Homo sapiens: one gene and its partners. The protein of the gene in region 1 interacts with the protein of each later gene in a biochemical or structural test. Each region holds a gene or a part of one and is shown in the gene's direction. Other genes may lie near its edges.

Region 1 (7,651 bases):
CGGGGTTTCACCTGTGTTAGCCAGGGTGGTCTCCATCTCCTGACCTCGTGATCTGCCTGCCTTGGCCTCCCGAATGTAGCAGTTTAAGTAAAATGAAAATGATGAAATGAATACCATGGGATTTACAATAATCAGTCTCTGGATCAATATCTTAGTAGTGGTTGGTTTTTACATATGTGTATAATAATGATACCTTATGACATATGTAGTAGGGAAGAATCGATAGTAAGATAACTTAGTCTTAAATTATCAACTAAATTTACTATTGTATATTTAAAGTGGGCTTAATTAAAATCCATTTATATTTTAGAATTTTTCCAAGAACATTTTTGCAATTCTTCAATCTGTAAAAGCCAGAGAAGAAGGGCGTGCACCTGAACAGCGACCTGCCCCAAATGCAGCACCTGTGGTAAGAATGCTTTACTGCTTTACAGTAGATTTAATGAAGTTGCCACTTATATTGCAGTGTAGTAACGTTGAAGACATCTTCACATTTTAAAATCAGTGGATTCTAAACCTTTTGCTCCTTTAGCATATCTGAAAGATGTGAAAGCCCTCCCCAACATTAAAAGTTACTTACTTCAGCAGTAATTCTTAACTGGAGCAGTAATTCTTAATATACCTGGGTCAGAGTCTGAAAAAGGTTAATTAGGGAAAGCCCTCTATTTATTTTAGGTAAACTGTGGCTGGCCTACTCATTGTTGCTTGGGACAATTGCTAACCATTGTTAATAACATAAATCCCTGTTAACTCCCAGTTTGGGGTTCTTTTTGGCATTGTATCTATTACATCTTGGTGAATGTATTTCTCTTGATCACCAGCCATGCTGTCCTTTAATTGTACCTCCATTTCAGCTGCTCTGAGAGTTGACTGCCTTCTCTTTGAAGTGCCACTTAAGACCCTCCCAAAGTAAATTTCACGTATGACATATAGCCTATATTTAAATTCAAACATCCTCTAATTTTGTTGAAAATCCTTCCAGCTATTTTCATATGATTCAACAAAGGAATAAAACATACAAATGAAATTGTTTCTATTTTCTGCAATAGAAAATAGAAGATTCTATAAATAGAAAATTTATAATTTTTTTTTTTTTTTTTTTTTTTTTTGAGACAGTCTCACTCTGTTGCCCAGGCTGGAGTCAGTGGCACGATCTTGGCTCACTGCAACCTCCGCCTCCTGGGTTCAAGCGATTCTTCTGCCTCAGCCTCCCAAGTAGCCAGGATTACAGGCGCATGCCACCCCACCCAGCTAATTTTTGTATTTTTAGTAGAGATGGGGTTTCGTCCTGTTCAAGACCAGGCCGGTCTTGAACTTCTGACCTCAGGTGATCTGCCCACCTCGGCCTTCCAGAAAACCTTCTATATTTTTAAAACTCTGTTTCAAGTTTTAAAAGGCACATTGAAATGTATTAGAGTACTAATACAGCCTTTGCAACTACTTTGTAGTAGTTTTATTTGCTCATGAAATTGTTGGAATTTAACTTTTAAAGATGGTAGGCTTTTGTTGATAATTAGATAAATACTTTTAGTTGACTCTCCATCAAGTACTTAAGTGCCTTCTATTAGGAAGTCTGCTAATGATCTTGAGATACAATAGTGAGAAAGATTATAGTCCCTACTTTCTTTGAGCTTATAGTCTAATACAGCAGTCCCCAACCTTTTTGGCACCAGGGACCAGTTTCGTAGAAGACAGTTTTTTCATGGACCAGGGGGAGGTTTTTGGAATGAAACTGTTCCACCTCAGATCCTCAGGGTTTAGTTAGATTCTCAAACGACCATGTAACCTAGATCTCTCAGCAGTTCCCTACTTATTAGATGTTTTTTTTTTTTTAAAGTAGTGGAGTAAGAGCTATGATGGCAAAGCACAAGGTACTTAGAATTATGAATTTGTTGACATTTTGAATAGCTGTTGATAGGAAACATGTCAAACCTTAAAACAGTTTTACCATTTGTGACTGATTATTCTTTCTGTATATTTATATAATCGTTAGAATACTTGAAGGTTTTAATGTTTGGCATTTGACTATAGAAGTATATGCCTAGTGTGAAGTAAGCATATACTTATCATTCTTGATAGGTATTGATAAGTATATTTTATTTGGCATAATATTTGATATAGAATCCTATCATAATAAAATGAAAAGTATTTCAGTCTTCATGAATTTTCCAAGTAGCTTTGGGAATATTCCTAAATATGTGTTTTTAGTTTGTTAAACATTGTGAGTTTTGATAAAGTATTTGTGATTAAATAATGCATCATTAGACTGACAGCCTTTTCTAATTATTTAAAAAAAATACGTCTTCAGTCTTACTCTGTTTATAATGGATTAATCATCATGGCTTTCATGTTTATTTAAGGATTAATAATTTGGGTTTTTTTGTTTTGTTAAAACAATCATAATTGCAGGGAAGAGTATTATGTCGTAAAGGTACTTTAGCCAGGTATGGTGGCTCATGCCTGTAATCTTAGCACTTTGCGAGACTGAGGTCGATCACCTGAGGCTGGGATTCAAAACCAGCTTGAGCAGCATGGTGAAACTTTGTCTTTATAAAAAAAAAAAAATTAGCTGAGTGTGGTGGTGCATGCCTGTGGTCCCAGCTACTTGGAAGGCTGAGGTGGGAGGATCACTTGGGCCCAGGAGGTCTTGGCTGCAGTGAGCCATGGTCATGCTACTGCACTCCAGCACATTAAATAAGTGACATTTAAAAATATTAACAAGTAACTCATAATTAATTTTTTTACAGGATCCCACTTTGCGCACCAAACAGCCTATCCCAGCTGCCTATAACAGATACGATCAGGAAAGATTCAAAGGAAAAGAAGGCAAGTTGCTTAATTCTTATCTTCCCCTTAGTGTGGTTGTGTTGAACTTGAGAGGCAGTGTGGCCTGATGTTTAAGGGTAAGGGTTGGCAAAGTAATGTCTACAGACCAGATCTTACCCACTGCAATTTTTCTTAAATAACATTTTGTTGGGACACAACCACACTCATTCATTTATGTATTTTATATATGGCTGCTTTGGCTTTGTGACATCAGTATTGAATTGTTTCAGTAGAGACTGTGTAGCCTACAAAGCCTAAAAATATTATCTGGCCCTTTACAGAAAAAAAGTTGGCCAACCCCTGGTTAATAGCATGGATTCTGGATCCAGATAGCTTATGTCGTAGTAACTTTTTGTGTGAATTTTAATGTTACTTTAACTGCATTCTGCCTTAGTTTTCTCCTGTGTATAATTAAAATGTTATTATAGTGCCTGTCTCTTACCATTATTGTGAGTATTGGACTGGTTAATAAATATTGAATTCCCAGAATAGTATCTGATATGTAAGTAAATTATCTATAAATGTTTGCTGTTATTCATACTGCTTTTGTTTTTATATAATTTAAAGTAGAGATTCTATATGTTAAGTCATTTTTCCCAAGTTATAAATGTGTATGTACATTGAGAACTTGGAAACAAATTTTGAGCAATGATGGGAGGACTTACTTTGTGATAGTCTACGTGGTATTCTGGCTAATGCAATAACACCATTTCTGCAGTTGTGAGGTGAGACTAATGTCAGTGTAACTTCCTCTTGGGATCTTCATTCATCATGACTTGATTCATGAAAATATTAGGTAGAAGCAACTGGAAGTTAATGATATTTTTAAGCATAATCTGAAATCTTCATTTAAGTTTTTTTTAAATGATATGTTGCCTTGATGCAATGAATTTTGTGTGCTGACTTCATTCAGTTGTTAAAGGCATGCACTGGATATGTGCCATAGAAAGACTACGTCCATTCTTTCATTATAATATTCAATGTTTTTCTTGAGGAATGAATTATATAAAGCAGAGGTTGATAAATTACAGCCCCCAAACTAAATATCACCCTCCATGGGCCAAATTGGGTTGCCCCCAATTGATCACATATATTGTTTATTCTGCTTTTGCACTAAAATACAGAATTGGGCAGTTGTGACAGATTTTAAGGCTTGCAATGTGTTAAAATATTTGCCTTTACAGAAAGGCATATTGGGATTCTGTCCTGGCACTCCAATCATTATTTACAACATTGCTTTCTATAAAATATGTAATATGGTTGATTGCTGTAGCTCACACCTGTAATCCCAGCACTTTTGGAGGTGGAGGCAGGAGGATTGCTTGAGTTCAGTACTTTGTGACCAGCCTGAGCAACATGGCAAAACCGCATCTCTACTAAAAATACAAAAAAATACCTGGGTGTGGTGGTGCATGCCAGTGGTCCTAGCTACTCGGGAGGCTGAGGTGGGAGGATTGCTTGAACCTGTGGAGGGGGGATGGGAGAAGAGGTTGCAGTGAACTGCAGTGCCACTGTACTCCAGCCTAGGTGACAGAGTGAGACCCTGTCTCAAAAGAAAAAATATATATGTATGTATGTATATAAAAATAAGTATATGCCTTATGACTGAAACTTTGGAACACTACTTTTTATAACTTTGGGTCTTTTCATGGTATTAGATGCTTTTAGTGGTACTATCATTGAGTATTAGTAGTAAGTAATTTGGGGTTATAAAGTATTCAATCTTAATTTTTGAACATAATTGCAGAGATAGTCTTAACCAGCTTCTATACAATAGGCTTGCTGGTCTGTATTTAATATATTAATATTTTTTAACCTAGAGTCCTTTTTAAAGTTTTTATCTTCACAAGTACGTAATTTAATTTTACATAGTAGATTCAAGGCTTTGTATATTATTGAACCATCACATTCAATGTAGATTATTACTTTAGATTTGTTATAGGTCATAAGATACATGATCTATAAAATCTTAACAATAAGCCTCTTTTTTTTCGTAGAAACGGAAGGCTTCAAAATTGACACTATGGGAACCTACCATGGTATGACACTGAAATCTGTAACGGTAAGTTAATTTGGCTGTAGATGTTCTTTTGTTCCAGGGATTTTATGTGAGTAGCACATGTTGAAGTAAATCTTTAGTCTCTCATATTTTTTATTTCAAACATTTTTCTTTATTGATCACTTGTGCTGATTGATCTGTGTGGTGTATTATTTGATTCATGGGTATCCTGTTTCATTTTTCTTTTCCTTCAAATTAAGTTGAATATATGTAAATAAAAGCTGATTTGATTAACTTGCAAGTAGGGCAATGCCACCTGGTCAGTATTTAAAGCCTTTAAGTTATGAGGTCAGTTTGGGAGAGCTTTTTCGCATAATATCTTTTGTTTTTATTTTTATTTATTTATTTATTTTTTTGAGACAGAGTCTCGCTCTGTCGCCCAGGCTGGAGTGCAGTGGTGCGATCTCGGCTCACTGCAACCTCCGCCTCCCGGGTTCACGCCATTCTCCTGCCTCAGCCTCTGCGAGTAGCTGGGACTACAGGTGCCCACCACCATGCCCAGCTAATTTTCTTGTATTTTTAGTAGAGACGGGGTTTCGCTGTGGTCTGGATCTCCTGACCTCGTGATCGCCCGCCTCAGCCTCCTGAAGTGCTGGGATTACAAGTGTGAGCCACCGTGCCCAGCCTTGTTTTTAACAATGTAATGTCTTTCGCTCTTTAAAGAGATGGATTATAGTGATTATAATGCTTACAAAGTATGTAATTAACAGAACTAAATACTTGGGTATCTGTGAATATAAGCCTTTGGTTCATGTTTAGCAAACTTTCTTTTTTTAACCTAAAAATGGTTATTTCTATATATTCTGACCAAGCCATATTTAACATTTTAAATTTTTATTTAATGATCGGACTTGGTGATGTAGAACAGGAATTCTGTTAACCTCATTTTGCATATTTATATTCTAGACCATTCTACCTTTTATACTTTTATTTATATTCTAGATTATTATACTTTTAAAATACTATGCATGTGTATTAAATAGAGTATACTTAAGACACTAATACCAAACTTTTGTCTTTGCTTGTGAATCATCAGATCTTTACGGACTCTATATAACATGGAATCATTATATATGTGCTGTGGTTTCTCAGAATTAACATATAACTTTATATCTACGTGGGCTTTTACGTGTTTTACTCACTCATTTCCAAAAGCAAATAGCAAGTATAGAGATCTGATTTTAAGTTTGTTTTTTTCTGGACTTCAAATTGGGATTGGATATCAGATATTTTGTTAATATACTTGTTTTTAAATTGTCATCAGATTTGTTTTTGTATTATTAAATTATGTGTAGATTAATGAATTCATTCAACAAGTACTTATTGAGCATTTGTGTCAGATCCTGTTCTTGTTGCTGGTCATACAGCTGTGAATAAGACAGATGAGCCTTGTTTAGAGAGAGAAGTCAGAGATACTTCTCTCAGGAGGTAACAGTTGAGCAGAGAGACTTGGATAGCATTCCTCTACGTCAAGGCAGGGATCAAGACTGAGGTCCAGTAGAGCAACAGCAAGGAGGCCAGTGTTGCTAGAGTTTGGAGAACTAAGGGAAAAGTCATCAGGGATTAGATACTCCCATCTTATGCGATCTGCCTGGTTCTTCCTGACTTCAATATATAATTCATGGCTGAAGATTTAGTTTAAATTCTTATGTGATTTGGTTATTGACATCTTGGGAACAGAACTTGCCTACTAATCATTTCCCTAAGTGCGACAGAACTTGCCCGCTGATCATTCCCTGAGTGAATTAGTCGTAGAATGAAGTTGTTACCCTTGGGGAGCCATCAAAGTAAGTTTTTTGTTATTTTTGTGATTGTTGTTTTTACTTTTCTCATCCATCCCTGTACCTCTGAAATGCCATGAAATGGTTTTATTATCTGAGCTTCTTTGCAAGTAGTAAAATCTGTGATGGGTTTTACAGTGATGCTTTGTACAGAGCAGTTTTTCTAAAATTTAAGGATAGCTTCTTTATTGATCAGTATGAGAATGATGTGATTCTGCGGCATCATCAGAGACTGTTCTAAATATACTGAAAGAGGTGAATTTAAGCAATATACTGAAGTATACTGAAAAGAGAGGTGAACTTAAGCAAATTTATGCTGTGTGATTTTTAAAGAATAGTCATGAAAAAGGCATTGTGTAGGAATGCAACAGAAAGACTAAAAATGGTTAAATTGCTGATAGTTATATTAATACCCAGTTTGAATCTCTGTGTTGCTTGTGATCTGATTTATGCAGTTGTTAGAATTAATACATAGAGAAATTTGAACTTGAAAGCTTTGAAGTTCTCAGATAATTATTTTTTAGTTGTGTCTCAGACTTACGTTTTCAATTTAATATTTTTTTCTCTTCTTTTCTGCTTTGGAATTACTACCTATTTGTGAGCTTGTGAGTTGCACCAACTTTCTACCTTATTCTCCAGTCAAGAAAGTTTCTCCTTTATAATATCCACCCAGACATACAGTGATGTTAAATGTATGTTAAAAGGCTTTGCTGCCCAGATGTAACTTCCTTCCTAATTTATGTATAGTTCATTTTTGCAGCCATTGTTCTCCAAGGTTTTGATATGCCTGGTTGATGTACATAGTTAATAAAATTAGGATCAGTCTATGTATCTTTTAAGTTAAACATCAGATTTCTGTTATATGCAAGACTAAATTATGCAGACGGCTAGAATATTTTTATACAGATAATTTCCTATATATATATGTTGTAGAGAAGGATATGTTTTGATAATCACATTTCATAAGAATCATGGGTTAGTGAAA
Region 2 (7,651 bases), on another chromosome or scaffold:
CATTATTGCCTCCCACCCCACATCATTTATACTGTTATCATACATTTTACTGCTTTTTCTTTTTCTTTTTCTTTTTTGAGATGGAGTTTTGCTCTCGTTGCCCAGGCTGGAGTGCAACGGTGCGATCTCGGCTCACTGCAGCCTCCGCCTCCCGGGTTCAAGCAATTCTTCTGCCTCAGCCTCCAGAGTAGCTGGGATTATAGGCATGTGCTACCACGCCCTGCTGATTTTATATTTTTAGTAGAGACGAGGTTTCTCCATATTGGTCAGGCTGGTCTCGAACTCCTGACCTCAGGTGATCTGCCCGCCTCGGCCTCCAAAGTGCTGGGATTACAGGCGTGAGCCACCGCGCCCAGCCCATTTTACTTCTATGTATGTTATACATCCCACAATACGTAGTTAGGATTTTTTTACAGCCTTAAAAATTCACGTACCGTGTAGTTACCTATTTAAAGTGTATTATTTGGTGTTATTGTTTTAAACAGTCCAGTGTATTTAAAGAAATTAAAAGATGAGACAGAAATGTATTTTGTATTTTCCCACATGATTTCCTGTTTTAAGTGCTCTTCTTTTGTGTAGATCTGAGTTTCTGTCTGGTATCATTTTTCCTTCTGCATGAAGAATGTCGCTTTAACATTTCTTACAGTGCGTGTCTCTTGGCAGCAAGTATTCTCAGATTTTGTTTGTCAGAAAAAGGATTTTGCTTTTAATTTTAAAAGATATTTCCATTGGATCTAGAAATCTAGCTTATATAGAACTCTAACGTGATAATGTGTTTCTTTCAGTATTTTAAAGATATCTTTTCTTTGTCTTCTTTTTTGTATAATTTCTGACTAGAAGCCTACGGTCTTAATCTTGTTTTAGTCTTAACTTTACAATTATGTACCTTGTTTCCCTAGTTCTTGCATATTCAAAATTTTTTCTCTAGCTTGGATATTTGAAAAATAGTTTGGCTGGATGTAAAATCCTTGGGTCATGCTTTCTTTCCTTGGGTTTCTTATAATGCTACTTTACTGTTACCTTGCTTTGTATTTGCTTTTCAGAAATAAGATGCCAGTCTAATTCTTCTGCCCTTGTAAGTGATTTAATCTTCCTCCTTGAAGGCACTGAGACAGTTTTTCTCTGACTGCTTTTCAAGATTTTCTCTTCGTTGCTAATTTTTAGCAGTTTTATTTTGGTGGGCTTCATTTTGATTTGTGTTTATCTCACTTGGGATTTGTTGAGCTTCTTGGATCTGTGGGTTTCTAGTTTTTATCAGATTTTGAACGTTTTTATATATTGATTTTTTCAGATTTTTTTTCTGACTCTTCTCTCTGGATTCCAGTTATATTTGATATAAATATAATTGTATTTGATATCGTCCCACAGGTTTAGTGGGAATCTATTCTGTTGCTGTCTTTTCAAGTTCAGATATTTCCTTCTACAGTGTCTAATATGCTATTAATCGCATCAAGTGAAATTTTCATTTTAAATATTGTGATTTTCATCTCTAGAAGTTTAATTTGGGTCTTTAAAAAATCTTTCACTTCTCTCATTATGTTTATGATTTCCTTTCCATTCTTGATCGTGTAGAGCATATTTTAAGTAGTTGTTTTAATATTCTTGTCTGCAGTAGTTTTGATTGTTTTGAGTCTCCTGTTTAAGTTCTTCTTTTTCATTTCTGTTTTTTTTCTTCTTTCTCAGCTGTGTGATCTGCTTAAGTTCTTTTTGAATATAGAGTATCCTTTACTCTAAGGCTAATTTGCTTCCTTTCCTAAAGCATAGTTCCTTTGGAGTCTCTGTTAACACTCTGTGAATTCATCTAGGTCTCTCTACTCTGACTGGTGTAAATTCGAACTGGTGGAATTTTAGTCCCTGTGTGAGTTCTGGGAGTTGTTTGGCCAGTAGCTCCATAGTAAACATTCTTTTCCTTGAAGTTGTTCTTGATTAGTGTCAAGAAGACTGAGTTTCACTCTGCATACACAGGTTGGTATTCAGCCAAATATTCAAGCAGACTGCTATGCAGATTTCTGGAGCTTTTCCTTTGTTCAGTTCCTTCCTCTCAAGTACTCTGTCCCAGAAATCTCAGCAACCTCAGCTTTTCGAACTCATTTCTCTCAGCTCAACTTGGTAAGATTTCTAGGCTCTGTTTGGGTGCTCCCTGAATTGCAGTTCACAAATTGCCTCCAGACAGAAAATCTGGGTAATAGTAGGACTCACATCATTTATTTTCCTTCTCTTATGGATCACTGTTTTGTGCTGCCTATTGTCTAGTATCTGAAAATAGCTGTTTTCTCTATTTTGTCCAGTTTTCTCATTGTTTATAGTAGGAAGGTAATTCCAGACTCTCAAACTTCCTCATAGGCAGAAGCAGAAGCAGTAGTTCTCTCAGGTACTCAAAATTGACATCACCCATGGGCAACACAGGAATATCATGTATTCCTGGATGTGATGCCCTTAGAAGGATACAGTGTCCACCAGACATGTGGCTCACACCTATAATCTCAACACTTTGGGAGGTCAAGGCAGGCAGATTGCTTGAGCCCAGGAGTTCAAAACCAGCCTTGGTAACATGACAAAATTCTGTCTCTACAAAAAAATACAAAATTAGCCTGGCATGGTGGTGCGCATTTGTAACCCCAGCTACTCAGGAAGCTGAGGTGGGAGGATCATCTGAGTCCGGGGGGGTCGAGGTTGCAGGGAGCCAAGATTGTGCCACTGTGCTCCAGCCTGGGCAACAGAATGAGACCCTCTCAAAAAAAAAAAAAAAAAGATTGGATGTGAGGGCGATCTGACTGTGACATCTGTCACCCCGTTGTTCACCAGGGTTGATTTGGCTGATCTGACTGGCTAGGCGGGTATCCCCTTCCTCCCTCACCACTCCATGTGTGTCTGTCGCAAACCTGCGTGCTCAGTCAAAGAGGATGACCATCCCCAATAGAGGAGGACTGGTCTTCAGCCAAGAGTATACGAGTAGCTGCACTCCCCTGCTAGAAACTCCAAACAAGCTCTCAAAAAAAAAAAAAAGGCATGACATGGTATCACTGTTTGTTCATGTGCTCTTCCAGTTTAGGCTGAATCTCATCATGAGGAAATAGCAAACCCAGTATGAGGGATGTTCTATTAAAAATAAGGCTAGGTCAGGTGAAGTGCCTCACACCTGTAATCCCAGCACTCTGGGAGGCTGAGGCAGGTGAATCACTTGAGGTCAGGAGTTCGAGAGCAGCCTGGCCAACATGGGGAAACGCCGTCTCTATTAAAAATACAGGCTGGGCACGGTGGCTCATGCCTGTAATCCCAACACTTTGGGAGGCAAAGGCGGGCAGATCAGGAGTTCAAGACAAACCTGATCAACATGATGAAACCTCTACTAAAAATACAAAAAAATTAGCCAGGCCTGGTGGTGCACACCTGTAATCCCAGCTACTCAGGAGGCTCAGGCAGGAGAATTGCTTGAACCTGGGAGATGGAAGTTGCTGTAAGCCGAGATGACACCACTGCACTCCAGCCTGGGCAACAGAGCAAGGCTCCGTCTCAAAATAAATAAATAAATAAATAAATGAATACAAACATTAGCTGCGTGTGGTGGCACACGCCTGTCACCCTAGTTATTTGGGAGGCTGAGGCATGAGACTTGCTTGAACCCGGGAGGCAGAGGTTGTAGTGAACTGAGATCACGCCACTACACTCCATCCTGGGCAACAGAGCAAGACTCTGTCTAAAAAAAGAAAAAACGAAAAAAACAGGCTGGGTGCAGTGGCTCACGCCTGTAATCCCAACACTTTGGGAGGCCAAGGAAGGAGGATTGCTTGAGCCCTGGAGTTCAATACCAGCCTAGGCAACATAGTGAGATCCATCTCTACAAAAATTAAAAAATTACCCAGGCATAGTGGCACACATTGTAGTGGGGAAGCTGAGGTGGGAGGATTGCTCGAGCCCGGGAGGTTGAGGCTGCAGTACGTTGTCATCACACCACTGCACTCCAGCCAGGACAACAGAGCAAGACCCTGTCTCAAAAACAAAAATAAAACAACCCAGGGTAGGGAGAACTGTATTCTTCAAAAATGTCAGTGTCATGTAAGAGAAAGCTGAGGACTTACTCCAGATTAAAGAAAACTAAAGAGACATACATGAAAACAGCATGTGATCCTGGACTGAATCTTGTACCTAAGTGAGGGAAGAAAAGCTATAAAGAACCTTCTTGGATCTGTTGACAAAATTGAATTAAGAAACGTATATTAGATAGAATATTGTATCAGTGTTACATTTACTGATGCTGATAATTGTACTCTGATTATTTATAAGAATGGTCTTATGAAATATACACTAAAGTATTTAGAACTAAAGGGGTTTAATAAATGCAACTTACTCTGAAATGGTTTCAGAAAAATATATAGAGAGAGGGATATTAAGTGATGAAGTGCACATTACAGAAGTATAACAGTTGGTGAATCCAGGTAAAGATTTTTGCATCTCTTCTGGAAGTCTAAATTTATTTCTAAATTAAAAGGTTTTTTTTTGTTGTTTTTTGTTTTTTTAAAAAACATAGTCTTGCTCTGTTGCCCAGGCTTGAGTGCAGTGGCGTGATCTCAGCTTACTGCAAGCTCCGCCTCCCGGGTTCAAGCAATTCTCTTGCTTCAGCCTCCCAAGTAGCTGGGACTACAGGCGCATGCCTCCACGCCTGGCTAATTTTTTGTATTTTTAGTAGAGACAGGGTTTCACCGTGTTAGCCAGGATGGTTTCCACCTCCTGACCTTGTGATCCACCCGCCTTGGCCTCCCAAAGTGCTGGGATTATAGGCATGAGCCACTGCACCCGGCATAAAAAGTTTTTAAAATATATTTGTACTTAGGAAAAAGATTTGGCAGTACCTAAACACATATATTCTATGACCCAGTAATTCCTTTTCTGAGCATTCATTTTCAGAGAAATGAATAAGTTATATTTAAATGAAAAAATAAATTATAAGTAAGAATGAAAAGCACTTTAGTTAAGCCCCCAGTCATGTTTAGCATTAATTTTGAAAATGTATACTTTTCCATTAGATCAAACTAAGTTATTATTTATTTATTTATTTTATTTATTTTGAGACAGAGTCTCACTCTGTTGCTGAGGCTGGAGTGCAATGGCACAATCTTGGCTCACTGCAACCTCTGCCTCCTGGGTTCAAGCGATTCTCGTGCCTCAGCCTGCAAGTAGCTGCGATTACAGGCGCATACCACCATGCCTGGCTAATTTTTGTGTTTTTAGTAGAGACAGTGTTCCACTATATTGGCCAGGCTGGTCTCAAACTACTGACCTCAAGTGATCTGCCTGCCTCGGCCTCCCAAAGTGCTTGGATTACAGGCATGAGCCACTGCGCCTGGCCTATTATTATAATGTCATAATGCAGTAGTTCTCAAAGTAGAGTCCCCAGACCAGCAGCATCAACGTGATCTAGTAACTTGTTAGAAATGGACATTTTTGTGCCTTCTTTTTTTGGACACATTTGTGTCCAAACCTACTGAATCAGAAACCTTGGGGTTAGGGTGTAGTAATATGTAGTTTAACAAGCCCTCCAGGTGATTCTGAAACATAAAGTGGAGAACTCCTACTATACTGAACATACTTTAGGAATTCCTGTTGCCTTCTAAAGCACTATTTCTTTAATTTTCAGCTTCTCCAATTTGGGAAATACCTGCTATATGAATGCTATTCTACAATCTCTATTTTCACTCCAGTCATTTGCAAATGACTTGCTTAAACAAGGTATCCCATGGAAGAAAATTCCACTCAATGCACTTATCAGGTAATCATTATGTACTGTACTTACTGAGTAACCTTTTACTTCATTGATTATAGAATAATGGAATTTTAGACACTCAAAAATTTTCTGTGCCATTATTAGTAATTATTCTTTAAAATATCACGCCATGTCATGTAAAACGTGCTAACTTTGTGTTTTTTGTTTTACTAGACGCTTTGCACACTTGCTTGTTAAAAAAGATATCTGTAATTCAGAGACCAAAAAGGATTTACTCAAGAAGGTTAAAAATGCCATTTCAGCTACAGCAGAGAGATTCTCTGGTTATATGCAGAATGTGAGTATTAATTGTTTTAAAACGTTTCAGAGGCCTGACACGGTGGCTCACGTCTGTAATTCCAGCACTTTGGGAGGCCTAGGTGGGCAGGTCACCTGAGGTCACTGAGGTCAGGAGTTTGAGACCAGCCTGGCCAACATGGCGAAACCCTGTGTCTACTAAAAATACAAAAATTAGCCAGGCGTGGTGGCATGCGCCTGTAATCCCAGCTTCTCGGGAGCCTGAGGCAGGAGAATTGCTTGAACCCGGGAGGCAGAGGTTGTAGTGAGCCAAGATCATACCACTGCACTATAGCCTGGGTGACAGAGCAAGACTCCATCTCAAAAAATAAATAAATAAATATTTATAAAAATAAATAAAATAGGCCAGGTGCGGTGGCTCACGCCTATAATCCCAGCACTTTGGGAGGCCACGGTGGGTGGATCATGAGGTCAGGAGTTTGAGACCAGCCTGGCCAACATGGTGAAACCCTGTCTCTACTAAAGATTAAAAAAAATTAGCCGGGCATGGTGGCACATGCCTGTAATCCCAGCTACTCAGGAAGCTGAGGCCGGAGAATCTCTTGAACCTGGGAGGCAGAGGTTGCAGTGAGCTGAGATCGCACCATTGCACTCCAACCTGGGCTACAGGGCAAGACTCTGTCTCAAAAAAATAAAAATAAAACAAATAAATAACGTGTAAGAAATCATGGAAATTGACATGATTTTAGTGTGTTTCTTGATTTTTATTTTAAAACGAGATTTGTGTATGTGTGTTCATTATAGATTGAAAAACCTGAGGAGAGGCTGGGTGCGGTAGCTCATGCCTGTAATCCCAGCACTTTGAGAGGCCGAGGCGGGTGGATCATCTGAGGTCAGGAGTTCCAGACCAGCCTGACTGATGAGGTGAAACCCCATCTCTACTAAAAATACAAAAAAATTAGCCAGGCGTGATGTCGCATGTCTGTAATCCCAGCTACTTGGGAGGCTGATGCAGGATAATCGGTTGAACCCTGGAGGCAGAGGTTGCAGTGAGCCGAGATTGTGCCATTGTACTCCAGCCTGTGTGACAAGAGCGAAAATCTGTCTCAAAGAAAGAAAGAAAGAAAGAAAAACCTAAGGAGCTGTAGTAAGATTAAATGTGACTCTTCAAATATAGATTTGATTTACCAGTGCAAGGACCTGGGCTGTGTTACCTGCGAAAATTACCTCTTTTAACAAAGTGAGGAGTTATTCATTGATTCATGTCAGTGCAACTGATATAATTATTAAGAATATATAATCTGTCATTTGTTTTTATTCACAAAATATGCAGCTCCCCAAATTCTTATAAGAATAAACCTGACATTGTTCACATATGTCATTGACTTTCAAGGGTTTTCACTGTATAAATTATAATGTTAATAAGCTATTATTTTTTGTTTGTTTTGTTTTTTGTTGTTGGTTTTTTTTTCTTTTCTTTTGAGACGGAATCTTGCTCTGTCACCCAAACTGGAATATAATGGTGCGATCTTGGCTCACTGTAACCTCTGCCTCCCAGGTTCAAGAAATTTTTCTGCCTCAGCCTCCCAAGTAGCTGGGATTACAGGGACTGCCACCACACCTGGCTAATTT
Region 3 (7,651 bases), on another chromosome or scaffold:
GAATGCTGGTAGAGGGATTTGGACAAATTATATTGTTGGGTATTTTCTAAGTGGTTTACAGTTAATACTGGTGGCATTTTTTTTGTTATTGATGAATATTCATGTAAGCATATGCTTTTGTGGTTTGTAAGAAATCCTCATACGACCAGTTTCTACAGCTTGCCCATTTGTGTGGCACTTTCAGTCCCTTGCTTCAGACTCATCTGTTCTTAGCTAAACATATTTTTTCGAGACGGAGTTTAACTCTTGTTGCACAAGCTGGAGTGCAATGGCTTGATCTCGGCTCACTGCAACCTCCGCCTCTCGGGTTCAAGTGATTCTCCTGCCTCAGCCTCCCGAGTAGCTGGGATTACAGACGTGCGCCACCACGCCTGGCTATTTTTTTGTATTTTTAGTAGAAACGGGGTTTCACCATCTTAACCAGGCTGGTCTCGAACTCCTGACCTCAGGTGATCCGCCCACCTCAGCCTCCCAAAGTGCTGGGATTACAGGCGTGAGGCCACTGCGCCTGGCCTCTCAGGTAAACTTATATAATTGTCCTCACCTAAATTTGTTTAACCACGTTCGGCACATTTTCATCATCAGTGTACCTGAAATAATTTTTCTTCCATCTATGAAGTAAATTCCATGTCAAACTAATGTGAAGAGAAAAGGGATGCTCTGATTTGTACAGCACTTTGGAGTTAAAAAGCATCTGCTCAAAATTCTTTTGTGACTCACACAGAGCTGTGAGTACATAAAGGGTATCCATTTTACAGATTAAGACACTGAGAGAGATTAAGTACTACTACTTAAATTAAGTACTGTGTAGTTTGGAATAAGCCAGGACCCAGGTTTTCTTCTGGACAGCATGCTTTCCACATGACAGCTAGATCAGGAATTAGTGTTAACACTAAATACGTAAGACTTCAAACATCCTCTGTTCCCCTTTTTCCTTTAACAGGTGCATTGCCTCGTATTTCATTTCATACCCTGTTAATCTGTATTTGCAAATTTTGGCCTTTTAAAGTATTTCCTGTTTATTTTCTGTTCTAGATATTACCAGTGCCATTTTTCCTCCCCATTGATATGGCCCTTCATTTCCCACTTCAAATTCTGGTTATTTGATAGGTTATCTGGTTATTGGAACATTTTCGTTATTTTGTTTAAACTGGAAGATTTTTCTCTGGTCTGGAGATCCCCAGACTTGCACAGTAGAAGCTCCCAGGGAAAAAAAGCCATTTGTTGGGTAATGTTCTCTCCAACTTAGGCTGTAATATGTATCCTTTAATCATCTAATGCATTAGATGTTTGCTTGATTTTGTTTCTTTCCTTGTAATAATGTTTCTAAGTAATTTTTTAGTGGGCAGGTGTGGAGAAGATAAATTCATATTTATCTGCAGTTCTCAAATCGTCAACAAATTTTCAGATCTTTTGTAATGAGTCTGGAAGAGAATGAGAATAAACTCCACAAATAATCCTCAAATCTAAGTTTTCTTCTCAAATCTAAGTTTTCAGGTAGTTCAAAACTTTTCCAGTATGAAAACTTGCCTCCCAAAAAGAAAGGTAAAACTGACTGGCTCTTGTACTTTTGTTTTCCCCAGCATTTTCCCTGCCTGTCCTCTGGAAATTCAAACAGGCTGATGAAATACAGAGAAAGAGAAATGGTCAGAATGACACTCCTCTTTTCCCCAACTGCATCATCAGCCTACAGATGGCTTTTTAAGTGTTCAGTAATTCAACAAAATGTGTTTTAGGGGTTGTAGAATTATGGTATATGTGTTTCTCTTTTTTTCGGTAGTTTTCAGATTTTTCTCTCAGCTTTTTTAATGTTTTATATTATGAAAAAGTTAACTTTTTTTTTTTTTTTTTGAGACAGTGTCACTCTGTTACCCAGGCTAGAGTGCAGTGGTGCAATCTCGGCTCACTGCAACCTCCGCCTCCCCAGTTCAAGCGATTCTCTTGCCTCAGCCTCCCTAGAAGCTGGGACTACAGGTGTGCACCACCATGCCTGGCTAATTTTCGTATTTTTAGTAGAGATGGGATTTCAACGTATTGGCCAGGCTGGTCTTGAACTCCTGATCTCAGGTGATCTGCCCGTCCTGGCCTCCCAGAGTGCTGGGATTACAGATGTGAGCCACTGCGCCCAGCCTGAAAAAGTTAACTTTGAAGAGTAATAGTTGTCATCAGAATTGACAAATTTAAGTGCAAATTTAGATATCATTTAAAAAAATATTTTAACATGCTGCTGCTTTACCTGAATAATTTTGTTTTACTAAAACCATAGGTGTCACACTTAACTAAAAACAGCTTACCATTTATTGAGCTATTACTCTGAGCCAGGTATTCTGCTAAATACTTACCCACCTTATCCCATTTATTCCTCAGGCAACTTTGCAAGATGAGTATTATCCTCATTCTGAAAATGAGGATGCTAAGTATTTAGAATAGTCTTAAGCCAAATAGCTAGTGAATGGCCAAGTGAAGATGTGAATCTAAATCTGTTTTGCTCCAAAGCTAGTACTCCTCTCTTAAGCTACAGTGTCTCTCTAGAAGACCCTTGCATCTGCTCTTGAACCATGCATGGATACAATTAAGTGAATACAAAATCAGGAAGTAAGAGTATGAACTTGCTGTTTTGGGGCAGGTGTGTTTCCCTAGTTACCTAGATCAATATCCTGACCCTAGTTCTACCCAAGATGTTGTCCCACATGTGTACTTGATCTCAAGTGCACATGACCAAGCCACAGTGAACCACAGAAAGTAGTTCGAAATTTTTAGGTATTAGCTGTTTTCTGCTTAAGCTGTTTTCTTGTCACTTTGATTCGGTGTCAGTAACCAAGTCTGACTGCTAATGTGGGTTCAAATCCTGGCTTTTCTGAACTTTTCTGAACTTTAGCTGTGTGATTTTAGGCAAGTTCTTTGTCATCACTAAAATGTTTCTCGTCATGGTAAACTGGAGATAATTTAGTAAGGATTAAGTGAATATAAAATGCTTCTAGTGTAGGATTGTGGGCCTAAAGGATGTAATAAGGCCTAAAAAACAATCTGAGGTTGCCTTTCTTTGTAAAGGATTCATTTAGATTATAGAAGGAGGAGTGAGGCAAGGACATAAAGTTTTGAAGTTCATGGAGAGATTTTGTGGGTAGTGCTGAGGTTTATTTATTTATTTCATTGAAGGCTCAAGGTTGAGTGGAATTAAATTGCAGGGAGAGAAATTGAAATTAGATGTTAGAATTTCGTAGGAGCTGGGATACCTGAAATATTGATTTACATTTCCAAGTACCTCAGTTAAAATAACAACTGCAACAAAACTTTGATATCTATATCAGAGTTAGATTAATTAGCATAATTCAAAATTTAGAATGACTATACAATTTTTAATAACAGCTTTATCGAGAAATAGAATTAAATTCATTCTTAAAGTGTAGTTGACTCTTGAACAATGCAAGGGTTGTGGTGCTCACACTATCCCCCCTCCCTACCCGCATGCAGTCAAGTAGTATAACTTTTGTAGTAGTATAACTCATGCAGTCATGTCACTCAGGCTGGAGTGTGGTGGCATGATCTTGGCTCACTGCAACCTCCGCCTCCTGGGTTTAAGCAGCTCTCCCACCTCAGCTTCCCGAGTAGCTGGGACTACAAGTGCGTGCCACCACACCCAACTAATTTTGTATTTTTAGTAGAGATGGGATTTTACCATTTTTCTCAGGCTGGTCTCCACATCCTGACCTCAAGTGATTCACCTGCCTCGGCCTCCCAAATTGCTGGGATTACAGGCGTGAGCCACTGAGCCCAGCCTTTTTTGGGTATTTTTTATAGAGATGGGGTTTCACCATATTGCCCAGGCTGATCTAGAACTCCTGAACTCAAGTGATCTGCCTGCCTTGGCCTCCCAAAATGTTGGGATTATAGGCACTTAGCCTGGGTGACAGAGCGAGACAATGTCTCAAAAAAGAAAAGAAAAGAAATAAAGGAGAGAAAATATGTTTACTGTTCATGAAGTGGAAATGTGTCGTCGTAAAGGTCTTCATCCTCTTTGTCTTCACATTGAATAAGCTGAGGAGAAAGGAAGAGTTGGTTTTGTCATCTAGGGTTGCAGAGGTGAAAGAAAATTCTCAGGTGAATCTGTGCAGTTTAAACCCATGTTATTTGAGGGTCAACTGTTAATTCAGTGGCTTTTAGTGTATTTACGGGTTTGTGCAACTATTACTACTGTATAATTTTAGAACATTTTCATCACTCCAAAAAGAAACCCTGTACCTATTAAGCAGTCACTCCTCATTCAGCCCTCATTTGCCCCCACCAATTTCTCACACGCCTCTGACAGCCACTAATATACTTTCTGTCTGTGTGTTTGCCAAATCTGGAAATTTTCTGTCAGTGAAATTATACAGTATGTGGTCTTTTGTAACTGGCCTCTTTTGCTTAGTATAGTCTTTTTTTTTTTTTTTTTTTTTTGAGACGGAGTCTCATCTTGCTCTGTCGCTCAGGCTGGAGTGCAGTGGCGCGATCTCGGCTCACTGCAACCTCCGCCTCCCAGGTTCAAGCAGTTCTCCTGTCTCAGCCTCCCGAGTAGCTGGGACTATAGGCGCGCACCACCACACCCGGCTAATTTTTGTATTTTTAGTAGAGATGGGGTTTCACCATATTGGCCAGGCCGGTCTCAAACTCCTGACCTCATAATCCGCCTGTCTTGGCCTCCCAAAGTGCTGGGATTTCCACGCGTGAGCCACACCGCCTGGCCTGATTTTTGTATTTTTAGTAGAGACAGGGTTTCACCATGTCGGCCAAGCTGGTCTAGAACTCCTGATCTCAGGTGATCTACCCGCTTCAGCCTCCCAAAGTGCTGGGATTACAGATGTGAGCCACTGCACCCAACCACGATTTGCTTATTCATTCATCATTTGGTGGACATTTGGGCTGTTTCAGCTTTTTGGCTGTTGTGAATAATACTGTTAAAAACATTGCTGTACAAGTGTCTCGCTCTGTCACCCCGGCTGGAGTGCAGTGGTGTGATGGCTCACTGTAAGCTCCGCCTCCCGGGTTCCCACCATTCTCCTGCCTCAGCCTCCCGAGTAGCTGGGGCTACAGGCACCCAGCACCATGCCCGGCTATTGTATTTTTAGTAGAGACTGGGTTTCACTGTATTAGCCAGGATGGTCTCGATCTCCTGACTTCATGATCTGCCCGCCTCGGCCTCCTAAAGTGCCGGGATTACAGGCGTGAGCCACCGCGCCTGGCGACATATGTTTTCATTTCTGTTGGGTGTATACCTCGGAGAATAATTACTGGGTCATATAGTAACTATGTTTAACCTTTTGAGGAACTGCCAGACCTTTCCAGTGTGGCTGCACCATTTTACATTCCAACTAGCAGTGTGTGAGGATTCCAGTTTCACCTCATTTTCACCAATATCATTTGTCTTGATTATAGCCTTCCTAGTGGGTGTAAAGTGGTATTTCATTGTGGGTTTGATTTGCATGTCCCTTGTGATTAACAATGTTGAGCATCTTTTCATTGCTTTGTGGCCATTTGCATATCTTCTATGGAGAAATAAATGTCTATTCAGATCCTTTGCCCATTTTTTAGAAAAGAGTCAGGGTCTGGCTATGTTGCCCAGGCTGGAGTACAAATTGGATTAGTCCATTTTTAAATTGGGTTGTCTTTTTATTATTGAGTTGTAAGAGTTCTTTATATTCTGAATACTAGAACCTTGTTAGATATGCTGATACTGTCTCCCATTCTGTGGGTTGTCTGTCTGCTCTTGGTTGTGGCCTTTGAAGTATAAAATATTCTAATTTTGATGAAGATGAATTTATATATATTTTTCTTTTGTTGCTTGTGCTTTTGGTGTAGTTTAACTGCAAATTTGAGATGACATAGTAATATCATAAGTCCTAGCTTTATAGTGATGTTATTGAGCTACAACTCAAATATCTATAATTCATTGTTTAAGAAAATAGATAATGGGCCAGGCATGGTGGGTCACACCTGTAATCCCAGCACTTTGGGAGGCTGAGGTGGGCAGATCACGAGGTCAGGAGTTCAAGACCAGCCTGGCTAACATAGTGAAACCCCATCTCTACTGAAAATACAAAAATTAGTTGGGCGTGGTGGTGGGCGCCTGTAGTCCCAGCTGCTTGGGAGGCTGAGGCAGGATAATCGCTTGAACCCAGGAGGTAGAGGTTGCAGCGAACTGAGATCACGCCACTGCACTCCAGCCTGGGCGACACAGTGAGACTGTCTCAAAAAAAAAAAAATGGATAATATCTTAATTCTTTAACCTTGAAATCTTATAATAATGCCTATGAAGAAGACATTATTATAGAAGAAGTAACTGTTTTACTTGATTGAGCTTAAATATGATCACTGAAAATGCTGGCTTATGGCCCCTGGAGATTATTGTTATGGTAGAAATAAGTAATTATTTGTATATTTTTGTACTCCTCATCAACCATGCTATGTGTCAGACCCTCTATTTTGATACTTTATCTGTGTAATGTTGCCTCATTTGGCTGTTTTAACTACTCAAGGTTGGTGTGTTATGCTCACCTACGTATAAAGAAGCTGAAGCTTGAAAAGGACAAATAACATTACCCAGATCTTGTAGTTAGCAAATGTCAGAGCATGGATTTGAATCTAAATCTGTCATATATGTACACCATATTCTTAACTATAAATCCCTATTACTCCCTCCTTTTTACATCTCCTTGAGGAGAGGGATGTTCGTATCCTACATGGTCTTGAGTATACTGAGCACATAGTACAAGTATCATGGTTTATAAAATCACTTGTTTTCTATTACCAGATAGGAGCACCAACAATGTAATAAAATAGTGTGATAGCTGTAGTTTATCTTTCAGCCAGTAGTGTGAACTAAATTTGGCTCTGGAAATTAAAGAAGAGTCTTTCTTTCTCTTGCATCATCTGTAGGAGATGCTACAATCTCATAGACTTGGACATGTATTCTTTTCTTTTCTTTTTTTTTAAATAGAGGTGGGATCTCATTCTGTTATCCAGGCTGGTCTCGAACCCCTGGGCTCAAGTGATCCTCCTGCCTTAGGCCTCCCAGAGTGCTGGGATTACAGGCTGAGCCATTGTGCCTGGCCTAGGCTTGACATTTAGAGCTAGGTGATGCTTGGGGAAGGCTAAAATACAGCTTCTTGTTTGGTGATACTAGTCATCTGAATTCACAAAGGAGTGCTGCCACTGGCGCACTGCTGGGGAAAGGGCAGCAGTATAAGGGTCAGGCGACTAGTTCATGACCTTACTACCCGTCAGTATGACCTTGGGCAAGTCACTTTTCTTTTCTGGGTTTAAGTTTCTTTTTTTTGTGTGTAGTTAAGGGTTTGAAATAGATGATTAAAGATTTCTGTTTGTTTTAAAATTCCCTGATGTCAGAAAGGGTTTCAGTCTTGCTCACTGCTGTATCCCCAGTACAGTAGAGCTTGGTACATTTGACATTACTGGAGTAGATCTTACCTTTTCTAGTTAGTAATCATAGAACCTTGTGCAAGTTTCTTGACATATTTCCTCATCTGTAAAATGGAGATAATACCTGCTTCTATAGGGTTTATGGTGAAGGTGGAATTAAATCTATGTGAAGTATTTAACAATGCCAAGCACATAGCAGCACTCAAAGTTTGTTGTCACCGAATTAATGTATGAT
Region 4 (7,651 bases), on another chromosome or scaffold:
TAATGTATTGTGGATATTAACACTTTACCTATAATATCACATATGCTGCAGATATTATTTTCCCAGTTTTTCATTTGATTTTATGTTGGTTTTGTTTTCTTTTTATAATGTAGATTTTTTAAAGTGTTGGGCAGGGAGGATCTTATCTTTTCCTATAAGGTTACTAGTTTTCTGACAGGCTTAAGACAGGTCTTTCCCCACTCTAAAGTTAGCCAGTTTCTTTTATAGTTTTTCAAGGTTTCTTCCTGATTGGTTCAGCAGCTTCACAATATGATGTGGTTACAATCTAACCGTTTCCTTATTGACAGATATTTAGGTTATCTCTTTTTTAAAAATTATTGTGGACAATATGACTGTGAACATCCCTATCTGAACAATTTTGTAGGATTATTTTCTACTAGAAGTAGAAATAATTGTCATGGGAGTGCCATAATTTTATTTTCACTGGTGATTATAGTCGATTTTTATTCAGTTATGTGTGTGTACAAGATATGTGGTGAACATGTTTTACTTTGTTCTTAAGTTTACTTGTGTTATAGCAATATGTAAGGAAGCTTAGCTTTCATTTTCATTGAAACTCTCCTTTATAGATTTGAACAAAATTCACTTTTATTGGCTCTGCACATTTTCTAGATAAATCATATTTGTGTTGTTTTTAAAGTATGCATTTGTACTGTGTCTTTTATTAAGAATAACTATAATTCATTTTCTACAGATTTCAAATGGTAATGTTTTTTAAGAAAAGTTTTAGGAAAATTTTCCTATTCCTCTAACATGTTTGTAGGAAAAACATTAGTCCTTATCTTATAAGTAGAAACACATTTGCTGTTAATCATTAAATGACACCTTATATCCTTAGATTTGCAGGAAAGCATATCCAGAATCCATCGAACAATTGAATTAATGTACTCTGACAAATCTATGATACAAGTAAGTGAAATTTTGAGCTAGTAATCATTGTCAAAATTATTTACATATATTTTAATTTACCTTTACATTATCTTAATCTAATTTTTCTTTACATGTTTTGTTTTAAAATTTTGGCAAATCTTATTGTAAAATAATAAGGGCTTGCAATATGTACAATGTGACAGTTCATCTGAATGGGGAAACTTTTATAACAAATTTATAACAAAATTCATGACAAGTTTTCCCCATTCAGTTGTATTTTCACACCGTATGTGTTGTGTACCCTTACTATTTTACAGTAAAATCTACCAAAGTTTTTCAAAAGGCTATAGCATCTTTAAAAAGTCTTATGGGAGAAAATCTATGGTTGTTAAAGGATATTAAGATTTGGGAAGAAACTTAAGGACTCCATTACATTTTAACTTCTGGTGTATATCATATAATCTATTTTGTTAACCGTCAATTTAGAATTCTGAAGATGTAGACACATTTGCTATATGTAAAACTGCCCACTATAAGCTTTTTATTCAAATAAACAATTAGGCCAATGAGTATGTACACAATAAATACATTTTTAGTTTTTCAAAAATCATCTTTTTAATCTATCAACTTTGCATATCTTTAGCTTATTCAGATTCCGTCTTTTTAAAGTTTTATAGTTTAGTTTTTTTCAAACTTTTAAGCCCAGCCAGTTCTCTCTCATTTAAAAAAAAAAATGCTCTTATGGTTTTCTCCAAACAGGTTGTTTGTGGGTTTCATGGAATGTGGTATATAGTAAACTACATAATTGCAGTTTAACTCTTCTTTTTTTCACATTTAGGTTCCTTATCGATTACATGCCGTTTTAGTTCACGAAGGCCAAGCTAATGCTGGGCACTACTGGGCATATATTTTTGATCATCGTGAAAGCAGATGGATGAAGTACAATGATATTGCTGTGACAAAATCATCATGGGAAGAGCTAGTGAGGGACTCTTTTGGTGGTTATAGAAATGCCAGTGCATACTGTTTAATGTACATAAATGATAAGGCACAGTTCCTAATACAAGGTAAGAATATATAGGGTGGTGTGTATTTTTAAATAGTCATAAAAGTGGCTCTGGTATGTGGTGTGATTAGTTAAGTGTAATTCACTCAGACGATGAAGGATGTGGTTAGGAAATGCTACTGGGTTTTGACAAGACTGAATTGAAAAGTAATGTCGTCAGGGCTAAGAATTCGTATATATTTTGTATTCCAAGTCAACTATTAAAGGTAAATATGACCTTTTTCGTCCTTGCTAAAAATGCTTTAGTGACTGTTCCACAGATTGACTCACATTTAATATTTAATTCCTTAGCCTAACATATATGGCCTCTGTTCTTGGCCTCTGATTATCTCCCCACCTTCATTGATCACCAGTGTTCCTTTTGAATTTATATCCTTACTGAACTTCTTGCTGTATCTGCTCATATCAAACCATTTCACACATTTATGTTTGCATGTTCGTATATGTTTTATTTTTTGCTAGTAATTCTTTTGCCTAATTCTTGTTTATCTGTCAAGATTCAATTCAGGTGTCATTTCCCCTGCAAACTATTTCTTGATCTGCCAAAAAGTATCTCTCCTTATGCTGTCCTGGCATCTGTCTACTGGGCATTTACTGTTGTGTATTGGAACTGTGTGATGACTTGTCTTGCACATTTCTCTCTTATCTGCTCAGAGCCAGAGATCATGTCATACTATGTCTGAATCTTTTTAATGCTGATATTCTGATATATGCTTTGCATATAGAAAATAATAAAGGTTTATTGAAACTGATAAAAATAATCTTTTTATATTTAGTCATTCAGAATCAGCTAGGCAGTCCACTTCTGACTAAAAAAATGAAGTTATTTTTCTGTGTGTGTAGTAGAAGTTCAGTAATTCTTCTGAATACTCTATTGTTTTTAAGATCTTGCTATATTAATTTTCATAATTGCATATTTAAGTCTACTTAATTTCTTCATATGACAAACAATTTTCATTTTATTTTGAGCTAATAAGGTTAACATGATTATGAGTTGTTTACATTTTGTGAAAAGTTTTACTTTTTAAGTGATCAAACATCTGGTATTTTCCAATAGTGGCAGAAGTAGTATTACATCACTGTTAGAGTAGCAAAGAAAAAAAAAAATGGCCGGGCGCGGTGGCTTATGCCTGTAATCCCAGCACTTTGGGAGGCCAAGGTGGGCAGATCATGAGGTCAGGAGATCGAGACCATCCTGGCTAACACAGTGAAACCCCATTCTACTAAAAATACAAAAAAATTAGCCGGGCTTGGTGGTGGGCACCTGTAGTCTCAGCTACCCGGGAGGCTGAGGCGGGAGAATCGTCTGAACCCGGAAGGCGGAGGTTGCAGTGAGCCGAGATTGTGTCACTGCACTCCAGCCTGAGTGACAGCATGACACTCTGTCTCAAAAAAACAAACAACAACAGCAACAAAAAACTTGGCTTTGGCTTTGTATTTTCTGTCACTTCTACTCTTAAGATAAAAAAAAATCTGAGACCATTACCTATGATGGATTATCAAATATTTTCATCATTGTTTTTCTGAGCATTTGTTTGAGTTTTAAAAAGTTTTGTAGATAATAATTATTTGCTAAGCAATAGTAATTCTTAAGTAATATGATTGGCTGAGTGGTAATAATTCATAGTTTAAATTCTATTTGAAATGCAGTCTATTTTGAGCTTTGCATTTTCCCTTTAATTCTTAATTTTATACTAGTTTTTGAAATATGATTTGCAGAGGAGTTTAATAAAGAAACTGGGCAGCCCCTTGTTGGTATAGAAACATTACCACCGGATTTGAGAGATTTTGTTGAGGAAGACAACCAACGATTTGAAAAAGAACTAGAAGAATGGGATGCACAACTTGCCCAGAAAGCTTTGCAGGAAAAGCTTTTAGCGTCTCAGAAATTGAGAGAGTCAGAGACTTCTGTGACAACAGGTTTGTCCATTTTTATTAAGTTGTGTTTGATTATCAATATTATTTTTATAATAAGATATGCTCATTATTAAAAAGTTTTAGCTATCTTAAAGTGTGAGGAAATCAGTAGAAATCATTTCAAATTCCATCACTCAGATTATCACAGTTAACAATTTAGTTTACCTTTTTGCCAGACACCACTGTATATATTTATATGTTTTTCAAGATAAATGAGATAATTCTGTTGACTTTCCCTCTACCTACTCTGCCTGTGTTGGGTGGGCTTGAATTTTCTTGGCAAGTAGCAGAGAAAGCTGTGAAATCAGCAAGAAACCCAAACCAATTCACTAAAGCTATCAAGAGTATCAATTCAATAAAGCTATCAAGAGTATCAATTCAATAAAGCTATCAAGAGTAGTAATTTTAAATTTGGCCAAAATAATACTACCGGTATATTCATATATACTTTGTGCAATAGTAAAATACTACCATTAATAACTATTTGATGTTTTTCGGAATTCTTAAGATTAAGAGAAAATTGACCAAAACTATTTAGTATATCACAGGTAAAAAGTAAGTGTATAGACCTGTAAACCAAAGATATAAATGCATAAACATATAAATATTTAAAAACATTATTCTGAAATGAACTATTAGCTGATGAAATCAATAAGTCAAAGTAAACACTGTATAGGAATTAAGAAAATAGTTTCTAGTAAAATTGAAAATATATTGTCTTTTTATTTTCTTAAAAGATTACTCTTCACTGAGTTGCAAATATGTTTTAGGGCAACATGTTTTCTGGTATAGAAAATGCTATTTCTCAGAGAAGCTATAAATTAAGCGCATATATTTTCCTCAAACTCATTTGTCTCTTTTTATAACTGCTAGTGGATATTATTGAATAACTTTTTTTTTTTGCAAGATCTGCATGTTTTGTGTTTTAAGGAAGTAGTTCCAGCTTTTGTTTGTTTAATTTCATCTTTCGCAGACAGAGGTTTCCTTGCAGCATTACCTGGTTGGGCTTCAGCATTATCATTTGAACTTTAGAAGGAATTATTACTTCAATAGAAGATTGTTTTACAGTGCTACAATGTAGTATTGTGACTGTCGCAGGCATGCACAAATCTGTCCAGATACTTAACTTATTTTCATGTAGATCAAATAATTGTCGTTGATTTTGATCCTGAGAGGCAGATAATTCAGCATTTTTTAAAAAGATAATGGTATCACAGCAACATTTGGATACTACAGTGCTATGGAGAATACCACCATTATAGTGGCTGGTGAACTCTACCATTATGTAGGGCTGCACTTTTCCCCCACGTGTACAAGGCTACCGCGTAGAGCAGGTGAAGCTATGTGGGTCCACAACAATGTAGTTTTTAGTAGATGTCAAGAGGTATCTAAGCTCAAATCACAGTGTAGTAACTATATTATAGTTCCTTTCATTTTTAAAACATTTCTGTCCCTTTGTGATTTCATGCTTTGCATTCTGTACATATTCTTTCCAAATCACTCCTCAGAACCTGCCCCAAGATGGAGCTACTGTGTTATTGTTCCCTTAACATTTACTTATTCCATTCACATGTGACTATTCTTGTTATTAGTGGGAGGAAGGGGCTGCATAGTGTACTATAAGCAGTTGTGGTACCTAAGCTCCCAGACACAGGTGAATCCTCCATTCATTGGTTAAGCTCCAGTTTTATTCTTGGCTCACCTATATTTTGTGATACCAAAATATTAAGTTCTATATATCCTCCTCCTCTTCATCCTGTCTGTTTCTCATCTCTCCAAATTTTCAGAGTTAACATATTTTATTTCTGCTTAGTCAAACGAATACATATTTCCAACTAATATTCCTATCTATTAAGGACTAGCCTTGCCCCATCCTCATTTTACATTTGTCATCTTTTTTCTTTCTCTGTGAAAAGACCATGTGTGCATAACTGCATCCATTTTCATGATCAATACATCTGACCATACACTTTACATGGTGTTTTGTAATTTTTAAAAAATGCAGTACTAGGTATTGGACATATATTTTCATGTCTGTTTTTACCATGCAAAATAATCTTAGAATGTTGATATATTTCTGGGAGGAACCAGAATAAAAGATGAAGAGATGGAAATGGTCAATTCCTATTCCTAGATAACTTTTATAGTTACCTTTCAGCGTGGGTTATTTAGAAAGCAGTGGTAATACTACTTCTGTAGGAAACATTGTATCCTCCATAGACTTGACGGAAATATGCACTTGGTTTGAATTAGTAGAAGTAGAACATGCCAAGTCCATAAATTTACAGAGTGAGATTGTTGTTTAAAAGATTGGTTTCTATTACTGTTATCTTTGAGATTATATTAAGAAATTTGTTCTCTGTTGCAGGATAGTTTCACATATCATAATTGAATAAGACTAATGTTTCATTAGAACCATTTATTCCCTATTATTAATAGGGAAATTTTATTTTAATGTCCATGCCATCCTCTTCTGATTCTTCTCATGGTTTTCAAAGTAAGTAATTTAATTTGGTATAATACTTCCAGGATCTCAAAGCAAATCTGTATTTTAATCTCTCAGGTGTTCACTAGTATTACCAGTGACTAGTGGAAATAATAAAAGGAAATCTTGTTCATAAAATCCAACAGAATGATTTTTTTCCTCCCTGCAAAATCTTCTCGTTAAAGCTGAAACATAAGACCTCATAAAATTCAATTTCTACTGAGTGATATTCCAATTAAGAGTACTAATTCATATTATATTAATCAAATTAGTATTTGTTCCTCTTCTGCTAAAATGTGATCGAGAAATTCATGCGTATCAGTTCACCAGCACCATTCGTTCCCTACTGAGATAATAAATGATGGGAAAGTATTTTTTGGTTCATTTCATGCTGCTTCCCTAGATCTGCTTACTGCAAAGGCAAACTTACCTGAATACTTTTGTTGAGATTTTCAGCCAGCCATTCTTTGCTGTCAGTGTGGGGATCAGAATGAGTAGGGGAGCAAACTTACCTGAATACTGTTGTTGAGATTTTCAGCCAGCCATTCTTTGCTGTCAGTGTGGGGATCAGAATGAGTAGGGGAGCAAACTTACCTGAATACTGTTGTTGAGATTTTCAGCCAGCCATTCTTTGCTGTCAGTGTGGGGATCAGAATGAGTAGGGGAGCAAACTTACCTGAATACTGTTGTTGAGATTTTCAGCCAGCCATTCTTTGCTGTCAGTGTGTGGATCAGAGTGAGTAGGGGAGCAAACTTACCTGAATACTGTTGTTGAGATTTTCAGCCAGCCATCCTTTGCTGTCAGTGTGTGGATCAGAATGAGTAGGGGAGCAAACTTACCTGAATACTGTTGTTGAGATTTTCAGCCAGCCATCCTTTGCTGTCAGTGTAGGGAACAGAGTGAGTAGGGGAGCAAACTTACCTGAATACTGTTGTTGAGATTTTCAGCCAGCCATCCTTTGCTGTCAGTGTGTGGATCAGAGTGAGTAGGGGAGCAAACTTACCTGAATACTGTTGTTGAGATTTTCAGCCAGCCATCCTTTGCTGTCAGTGTGTGGATCAGAGTGAGTAGGGGAGCAAACTTACCTGCATACTGTTGTTGAGATTTTCAGCCAGCCATCCTTTGCTGTCAGTGTGTGGATCAGAGTGAGTAGGGGAGCAAACTTACCTGAATACTGTTGTTGAGATTTTCAGCCAGCCATCCTTTGCTGTCAGTGTGTGGATCAGAGTGAGTAGGGGAGCAAACTTACCTGAATACTGTTGTTGAGATTTTCAGCCAGCCATCCTTTGCT

Evidence for each region.
Region 2: the proteins of CDC73 (region 1) and USP37 form a complex in vitro, tested with the Homo sapiens proteins (one study listed by BioGRID).
Region 3: the proteins of CDC73 (region 1) and TCEA1 form a complex in vitro, tested with the Homo sapiens proteins (one study listed by BioGRID).
Region 4: the proteins of CDC73 (region 1) and USP25 form a complex in vitro, tested with the Homo sapiens proteins (one study listed by BioGRID).

What each region holds. Positions count from the first base shown.
Region 1 is NC_000001.11:193,147,557-193,155,207, forward strand, and holds part of CDC73 (parafibromin), read left to right. Parts: intron 1-310; coding exon 311-409; intron 410-2,747; coding exon 2,748-2,826; intron 2,827-4,823; coding exon 4,824-4,888; intron 4,889-7,651.
Region 2 is NC_000002.12:218,496,142-218,503,792, reverse strand, and holds part of USP37 (ubiquitin carboxyl-terminal hydrolase 37), read left to right. Parts: intron 1-5,635; coding exon 5,636-5,767; intron 5,768-5,935; coding exon 5,936-6,059; intron 6,060-7,651. UniProt on the Homo sapiens protein: Deubiquitinase that plays a role in different processes including cell cycle regulation, DNA replication or DNA damage response.
Region 3 is NC_000008.11:54,013,768-54,021,418, reverse strand, and holds part of TCEA1 (transcription elongation factor A protein 1), read left to right. Parts: intron 1-7,651.
Region 4 is NC_000021.9:15,829,672-15,837,322, forward strand, and holds part of USP25 (ubiquitin carboxyl-terminal hydrolase 25), read left to right. Parts: intron 1-859; coding exon 860-930; intron 931-1,729; coding exon 1,730-1,958; intron 1,959-3,655; coding exon of another isoform or gene 3,656-3,669; exon of another isoform or gene 3,670-3,676; coding exon 3,677-3,877; intron 3,878-7,651. UniProt on the Homo sapiens protein: Deubiquitinating enzyme that hydrolyzes ubiquitin moieties conjugated to substrates and thus, functions in various biological processes including inflammation and immune response.